2 linked regions of the Homo sapiens genome follow. The protein of the gene in region 1 interacts with the protein of each later gene in a pairwise test. Each region holds a gene or a part of one and is shown on either strand. Other genes may lie near its edges. The genes, in order: METTL21A and ZRANB1.

Region 1 (3,823 bases):
AACCCGGAGGCGGGGGCAGAGATTGAAGTGAGCCGAGATCGCACCACTGCACTCCAGCCTGGGTGACAGAGTGAGACTCCATCTCAAAAACAACAACAACAACAAAAGGTATGTGAATGTGGTCTCTCTCTCTCTCTAAAAAATATCTTATCATACTCTAGTCACCTGTTTTCAGACCAAGGCTGACAGTGGGTAACTGAAGCCAGGGAAAGTGATCACAGGTGAGGGGGGACTGCTACAGTTCCAAGTACCATAAGACCAGGGAGATTTTCAAACTAAGAACGAGGATTTGAGAGTCAGATTGGATTCAAATTCTAAGCACAATCCATTAGCTTTGTGACCTCAGGCAAGTTACTTACCCTCCAAGAAGCCTCCCTTTCACCACTGGAAGGGCGCTATAAGTAGGTAAGGCCTACTTACCATGCAGGGTGACTGTGAGAATGAAAGGGTGTAATGCACAGTCCTCAGAACACAGGAACTACTCAGGAATTAGCAGCTGGTTTTTAACAGGAAAGTCTCATCACCCTATATTAATATCTACATAGCACCGCTTTTTTTTTTTTTTTTTAATCTTCTTTCTTTACCTCTACCCACTAAACTCAGAACGTAAGCTTCCGGAGACACCTGCCAGCCTGTTTATTGCCCCATCCACAGTGGACCGCCAGGCTTCTGGTGGGTTCTCCCCAAATTCAGGAATAAATGACTAAGGTTACAAAAAGAGAATATACTTTAAAAAGAATAATAATTAATCTCTTCCTGACATTTCAAAATCACTACCTATTCTAGTACTCACTGATTCTATTTTGAAGAGACTAACATTTTCTTACCCTCAGGCTCCAACAGCAAAACTTCTCCAACCTAACACTTTGTAGTGACTACAAATAGTGAGTATGAAAATCATACAGTAGCAGAGAAATGCTTATGACATAATGTGAAAACATCATTTGTATAGGTGTGTGTATACGGATACACAAAACACACATACGCAGACATATATATTTACATATATATAATCATAATTACAACTATGATTAAAAATACAGATGGAGAGAAACAAAACATACCAAAATGCTAATGGTAACTCTGGTGGTATCTGAAATATCTTATTCTGACTTTCCCAACCCCAGAGAACCAGATTGCTAGATCAGAAAAAGCAGTTACTCAGAGAGTAATCAACACTCGTGGAGCACTTCCTTTGTGTCACTCAGTGAGCCAGCAGATGTTATACACGCAATCTCATTGGTTCCTCACTGTGGAGTAAATATTACTATTATGCACAATGTACAGATGGGGTAATCAATGTTTAAAGGTTAAGCAACTTGCCCAAGGTCACACGACTAGTAAGAATGAAAAGAAATGTCAAAACCAAGTATAACTAAGCCTATGCACTTTGCTACACTAACATGTCTATACACCAGCCAAGAAAGTTTTGCATGAAGCCCTGGTTCTCAGGAGGAAACAGAAGAAACCTCATTTCCCCTTATAGTAACTCTTATATCAGCAGAGAGAGAAGTTGGTGTTACAGAAAAAAATAAAACAGGCCAGGCACGGTGGCTCACTCCTGTAATCCCAGCACTTTGGGAGGCCAAGGTGGGCAGATCACCTGAGGTCAGGAGTTCGAGACCAGCCTGGCCAACATGGTAAAACCCCATCTCTACCAAAAATAAAAAATTAGCTGGGCGTGGTGGCACATGCCTGTAGTCCCAGCTACTAGGGAAACTAAGGCAGGAGAATTGCTTGAACCCGGGAGGCGGAGGTTGCAGTGAGCCGAGATCATGCCACTGCACTCCAGCCTGGGCAACAGAGTGAGACTCCATCTCAAAAAATAAATAAATAAAATAAAATAAAATAAAATAAAATAAAACAACTAACTGTGTCTAACAAGCCTGGTTTTGAGTCCCAGATCTCCAGTGATCAGGACTTCAGAAAGTAGCTTCATCTCCCAGAATCCCAGCTTTGTTTGAAAAATGAAAATTAAAAATAATACCTAACATACACGGGAATGTTCTAAGGCTCACCTGAAAAGAATAAAAGGCAGTGTACCAGCAAGGGCTTCATCGATGACTTAAGTGCTGTGGTTGAAGACGGACGGAAACCTCTGTCAATTTACACAGACTTTCAACCACCACCCCTGCCCATGCTCCCTGTCGAATTTTGGAAAGCAGCAGCTAAGCAGAAAAAGAAATAGTGAAAAAGTATTGGGTTTCTGGAAAACAGGCAGGACAAAAGAGGGGCTTTAGCTGGTCCTCAAATATCTGTAGACAATGCGATGGGTTTAGAATACTCTGGAATCCTGGATCCTTCCTACCCAAGTGTAGTCTGAGAACCAGCAGTGTCGGCATCACTACTGACATTTCTACTGCTTGTTAGAAATGCAGGTTCCCAGGCCCTGGTCCAGCCCTGCCAAATCAGAATCTGCATTTTAACAAGAGCACCAGGTGACAATATGGAAGTGATAAACATTATACATTGTATCTTGAAAGCTGGTCTACCCTTATGATTAGATAGCTTGAACTATATATGTCAGAAGTTATAGAAATGAGTCAATAGTCAATAATAAAAATAACAATGAAGCCTAAAAATGCTCTAGCTCCAAGCCTCAATTAATGTGTGTATACCAAATTTTAAAATGACAAACTTTGATATCAAGTCAGAACTGTATACTGTTCATACAATTTTAAAAATAAGAAGTCAGTACAAACTATAGTGGGGGCTAGCCCTCCCTACAAGAGAAAAACCAGCAAAGTTTCCTCAGCAATGAAGAAAAGACTATCTGCTCTATCTCCCTCACAGGGTTAAATCAGATAGTGTATGGGAAAGAAAGCCCCTGAATGTGAAAAAAACTCTATACATGGGTAAGATTATTCTCCTTGAATCAACTCACTTTAAGATCGTATTATTGGCATCACAGAATTGAAGGGGGCAGAGCAATCTCCCATGGGAAGTATAAATAACAGAGTGTGTGTGTGTGTGAGAGAGAGAGACAGAAATTAGAGAGAGAGAAATTAGCCCGTTAGCCTCACTGGAGTTAAGAACCCCAGCAGTTGGCCCACAACTCATAAGTATAAGCAAAAGATAATAACCCAGTAAGGGGAAAACCCACGAAGGGTTTTGCGCTAAGAAAACAGCAAATGCACCTCTCAATGAGTTCTGCTCACTAAGGAGTCAATGCATGACACTCACCCAGCAGGGCAGCCACTATGCCCACCAGCCCCGTGCCAGCACCCAGCTCCACGGCAGAGCGGCCCCTGAGCTCCACAGCTCCCATCTCCAGGTATGTGGAAAGAACGATGGCCTGAATGAAAACACAGTGTGATGACGATTAAGGTCAACATGTGCTTGAGTAGCTGCAGGGTTTCAGGTCAGCTACACCCACCCCTCTCCCACTTCGAGGTTCAATTCCCAGCTTAACAACACACACAGGAACTTAGCTGGTGCAGCAAGGTAACCTCCCCCTTAGAGCAAGCACAGGGTCCCACAGCAGTGCCCAGAGATGATGCCCACACTAAATGGGGTCCTGCTGGATCTGGAAAGCTTAATTTTTTTTTTTTTTTTTTTTTGAGATGGAGTCTCAGTCCATCTGTCACCCAGGCTGGAGTGCAGTGGCACAATCTCAGCTCACTGCAACCTCCACCTCCCAAGCTCAAGCGATTCTCCCACCTCAGCACCCCCAGTAACTGGGACACAGGCGTGCACCACCACACCCAGCTAATTTTTGTAGTTTTTTTGGTAGAGATGGGGTTTTGCCATGTTGGCCAAGCTGGTCTTGAACTCCTGAGCTCCTGCGTCAGCTTCCCAAAGTGCTAGGATTATAGGCGTGAGC
Region 2 (3,823 bases), on another chromosome or scaffold:
TATCTTTGTAATACATTTTGAAATCTGGACTGTAAGTCATTTGACTTTGTATTTCTTTTTCAACATTGTTTTGACTATTTTGAGTCCTTTGGATTTCCATATACATTTTAGGATACAGCTTTATCGATTTTTGTAAAAAAGACAGCTGGGATTATGATTGGGATTGCATTGAATCTGTAGATTTAATTGGGGTGATGGTGGTATTGCCAGCTTGACAATATTGAGCCTTCCAATCCATGAACATGGAATTGAGTTTTGAATGTTAAACCAAACTGGTATTCCTGTACCATTTGGTCATATATTGCTGGATTTGGTTTGCTTGTCTGTTCTTATGGAGACTCTGGTAGTATCAGAGTTTAGGTCTTGGGGTGGTGAGGATGAACATTTTAACATGTTTAGTTTTAAAGTATATTTCATTGAACCTCCCTTCTTCAGTGGTCTTTGAAGAGTTTTGAGTGCAATCACCATTGAATTTCTGGCTGGCTTAGCTGTCTTATTTATAAAGTTATTTTAGGCACCAAGAAATTTCTAACTGCATATAACTTTCAGTATTGACAATTTCTCTGATATTTCTCCTTGAACTTTTCAAAACAATGTATTTCATCACTGTTGCCAAAATTTTCAAGACACATTTATCTTAGCGATTATAAAAGAATATACATATTTTAATTTTAAAACATTTGGAATTATGATTAAACATCCTCAGTTACGTGGAGTATGAAAAATGTTTTAAACTGAGTTAAACCTCTGGAACATTATATTTTAATTTCTTTAGGAAATATATTTACTCTCTAAGGAGCCCTTCATTAAATTACTGTAAAGTTACTTGTGACACCACCCATTTAACTTTTTTTTTCCCCCCGCAATATAGCCGGGGTCTCACTATGTTGGCCAGGTTGTTTTGAATTCTGGACCTCAGGCAATCCTCCTCCTTCAGCTTCCCAAAGTGCTAGAATTACAGGTGTGAGTTACCACACGTGTTCACGTTTAACTTTAATATGCTGAAACTTTTTAACAACAGGAACAGATTGGTCTTTTGTTTCTTTTACCTAGAATTCAGATGTATAGAAGATAAATGTGATGTTATAAACAGATTAAATGTCTGTCTGCATTTTAGAGGTCTTAGTTGGCTTGTTTTTATAAGACAGTGAACCATAATTTTGAGCATAATTATTTCTGAATTTTTATATTTGATAGACAAAGAATCGATGTGTTTTCAGTAATTCAGTGTTAAGCATAAAGAAGGAATGTTTTCTGTCATTGCAGTGGGTTTCTTTTTGGTTGCTTTTGAATTATTAGGTGATCATCAGAGAAATTATTTATGGAAAGAAATCTCAGGGAGATGATCTTGATACTATGAACACACGGAATATTTCCCACCTGTTGTTTATACAAGTGATCAAGTAGGTGGTGTACTATACATTGATAGAGAAATGTAGTGTCTTTGTATACAACATTTCAGATGACTTTTTTTTTTTTTTTTTGTAAACTAATTGTGGACAGTGGAAAATAACCAGTCTCATCATTAGCGTTTGAAGTTTGAAAATTTGGTTGTCGGTAAATCAAATTCTGACTAAAGATGTTAAAGGATGTTACAAGGTATCTGCTAGTGGAAGAGGGAGGCATTTTTCATTAGAAAAATACATTACCAACCAGACAAAATAAAATTATTAATTGTTTCACAGACTGCTTAAAGACTGCATTAAATAAAAATGATCAGAACTTTAAATGTTTTATTTATAGAAGACTATTTATTTATTTTTTTACTATCCTGCTTTTTTAGGTTTTACACACGCTGGAAAGATTGGGAATCATGGTATTCTCAGAGCTTTGGTTTACATTTTTCCTTGAGAGAAGAACAGTGGCAAGAAGACTGGGCATTTATACTCTCTCTTGCTAGTCAGGTGAGGATGCTTCAAGTCTTGTTGCTTCTATGAGAAAAGTAAGCATGTAGTCTAAACTGGTTTATTTGAGCAAACCATGTTGGGGGCAATGTGGTCAAAGAAAAGAATGCTTGACGTGGTATCATCAGTCAACTTGGGTTCTAGTGATGACTGCTGTGTATCAAATAAATAGCATCGCAAGTATAGATGAGCATCGCAAGTATAGATTAGCATCGCAAGTCCTCACTGCAGAGCAGGAAGAGTAACGTGTTTTTATATCGAATGATTAAAAACATCAAAAAGTGAAAGCTGTGCTATGACGGTTACATACAGTAGATAGTCTTGGGATTGCTCTCCGTTCCTGCAGCATAGGCTTGATGCCTATGGTACCTATCCAGGTGAGCTCTGTTCTGTCTCTGGGGACACTTAAGATTACTGGTGTAGGTACTTGCATTGCTGTTGCTGATCTGTCAGGCCCTGAGGAACCAGTTGTCAATCTTCATAATGCTCCCTGTGGTGAGGCAATACCTGTGTCATGTAGGCAAAGGAAAAGGGTAGTTTAGCTTACTCTGAACTAATTACCATCAATAGGAATGATTTCTGATTAATGTGGGAATGAAGTTTTGCAAGTTTGCTAACGTCTTTTTATTAATGAAGGCTGCTTGTGACACAGAACTGTGTAGGGTTGTCCCTTAGACTCTTGGTTTCATGCTTTATTTTGTGAAGCACTTCAGTATACCAAACTGTAAAGTACAAATATATATACAACTACTCCTTTTTTTTTGCAGAAAGCACCATGGTTCATTTGAACTTAGAGAAGGAGGTACCCGATCTTTGGGCAATTTGGGCAGGATTCATAGTGGTTGATTTACATGAGACATGTATCTCACACCATGCATTGTAGCTCGATGATGGACCCATTTAATATTAGTATTCACGAGTTAGTTGATACTGCCATTTACATTTGCATGAAACAGGCTCACTTATTTATTTCAGGAGGACTTTGTTGTAGGTAGTGCTTTCACAGTAACTTAACGAGAATGTGATAATAAAGCATCCTTAGTTATCTGAATCTCTGGTTCCTGAGGTTGGAGAGTTAGTAGTGAGGGATATTTCAAAGTATGTATGCACATCTGTATAATTTGTGAGTTTGGATGGTAAATGATATTTGCATGTAGCCTTTATAGATTTCTTTTACAGTTTTACTGGATTTATTATTTGAGGAATCAAATGCTGCTTTGACAATCTTTTCTTTCTTAAAAACCAACTGCGATAGTATACTGAAGGGGAGGTAGTATTGTTTTTTACACATCAGTTTTCCAGGAGTGGTAATAAATGTTTTAAGTTTTTGTTTTGTTTCGTACAGCCTGGAGCAAGCTTGGAGCAGACGCACATTTTTGTACTGGCACATATTCTTAGACGACCAATTATAGTTTATGGAGTAAAATATTACAAGAGTTTCCGGGGAGAAACTTTAGGATATACTCGGTTTCAAGGTAAGCCATTATTCAGGAACGTTTTACAAGTTTCTTTGAACGGAATGGCTCAGATGTCAGGAAGGAGCAGTGGACAGGGGAATGTGAACAAGGGCAGTGAGGGAGTGGCTCTTTCTTCCTGTGACTGTTGGGATTTTCTTCCCTCTCTTTCCAGGTGTTTATCTGCCTTTGTTGTGGGAACAGAGTTTTTGTTGGAAAAGTCCGATTGCTCTGGGTTATACGAGGGGCCACTTCTCTGCTTTGGTTGCCATGGAAAATGATGGCTATGGCAACCGAGGTGCTGGTGCTAATCTCAATACCGATGATGATGTCACCATCACATTTTTGCCTCTGGTTGACAGTGAAAGGAAGCTACTCCATGTGCACTTCCTTTCTGCTCAGGAGGTAAGCAGTTTCTCCTATGAACTATTTCTAGTAGTGACCTTGTACCAGAAACAGCCTGAA

Evidence for each region.
Region 2: the proteins of METTL21A (region 1) and ZRANB1 interact in binary tests that used the Homo sapiens proteins (3 or more experiments, as listed by UniProt).

What each region holds. Positions count from the first base shown.
Region 1 is NC_000002.12:207,618,623-207,622,445, forward strand, and holds part of METTL21A (protein N-lysine methyltransferase METTL21A), read right to left. Parts: intron 3,296-3,823; coding exon 3,184-3,295; intron 2,169-3,183; coding exon of another isoform or gene 2,119-2,168; exon of another isoform or gene 2,073-2,118; coding exon of another isoform or gene 2,019-2,072; intron 1-2,018. UniProt on the Homo sapiens protein: Protein-lysine methyltransferase that selectively trimethylates residues in heat shock protein 70 (HSP70) family members. Contributes to the in vivo trimethylation of Lys residues in HSPA1 and HSPA8.
Region 2 is NC_000010.11:124,979,926-124,983,748, forward strand, and holds part of ZRANB1 (ubiquitin thioesterase ZRANB1), read left to right. Parts: intron 1-1,299; exon of another isoform or gene 1,300-1,403; intron 1,404-1,783; coding exon 1,784-1,904; intron 1,905-3,249; coding exon 3,250-3,379; intron 3,380-3,533; coding exon 3,534-3,763; intron 3,764-3,823. UniProt on the Homo sapiens protein: Ubiquitin thioesterase, which specifically hydrolyzes 'Lys-29'-linked and 'Lys-33'-linked diubiquitin. Also cleaves 'Lys-63'-linked chains, but with 40-fold less efficiency compared to 'Lys-29'-linked ones.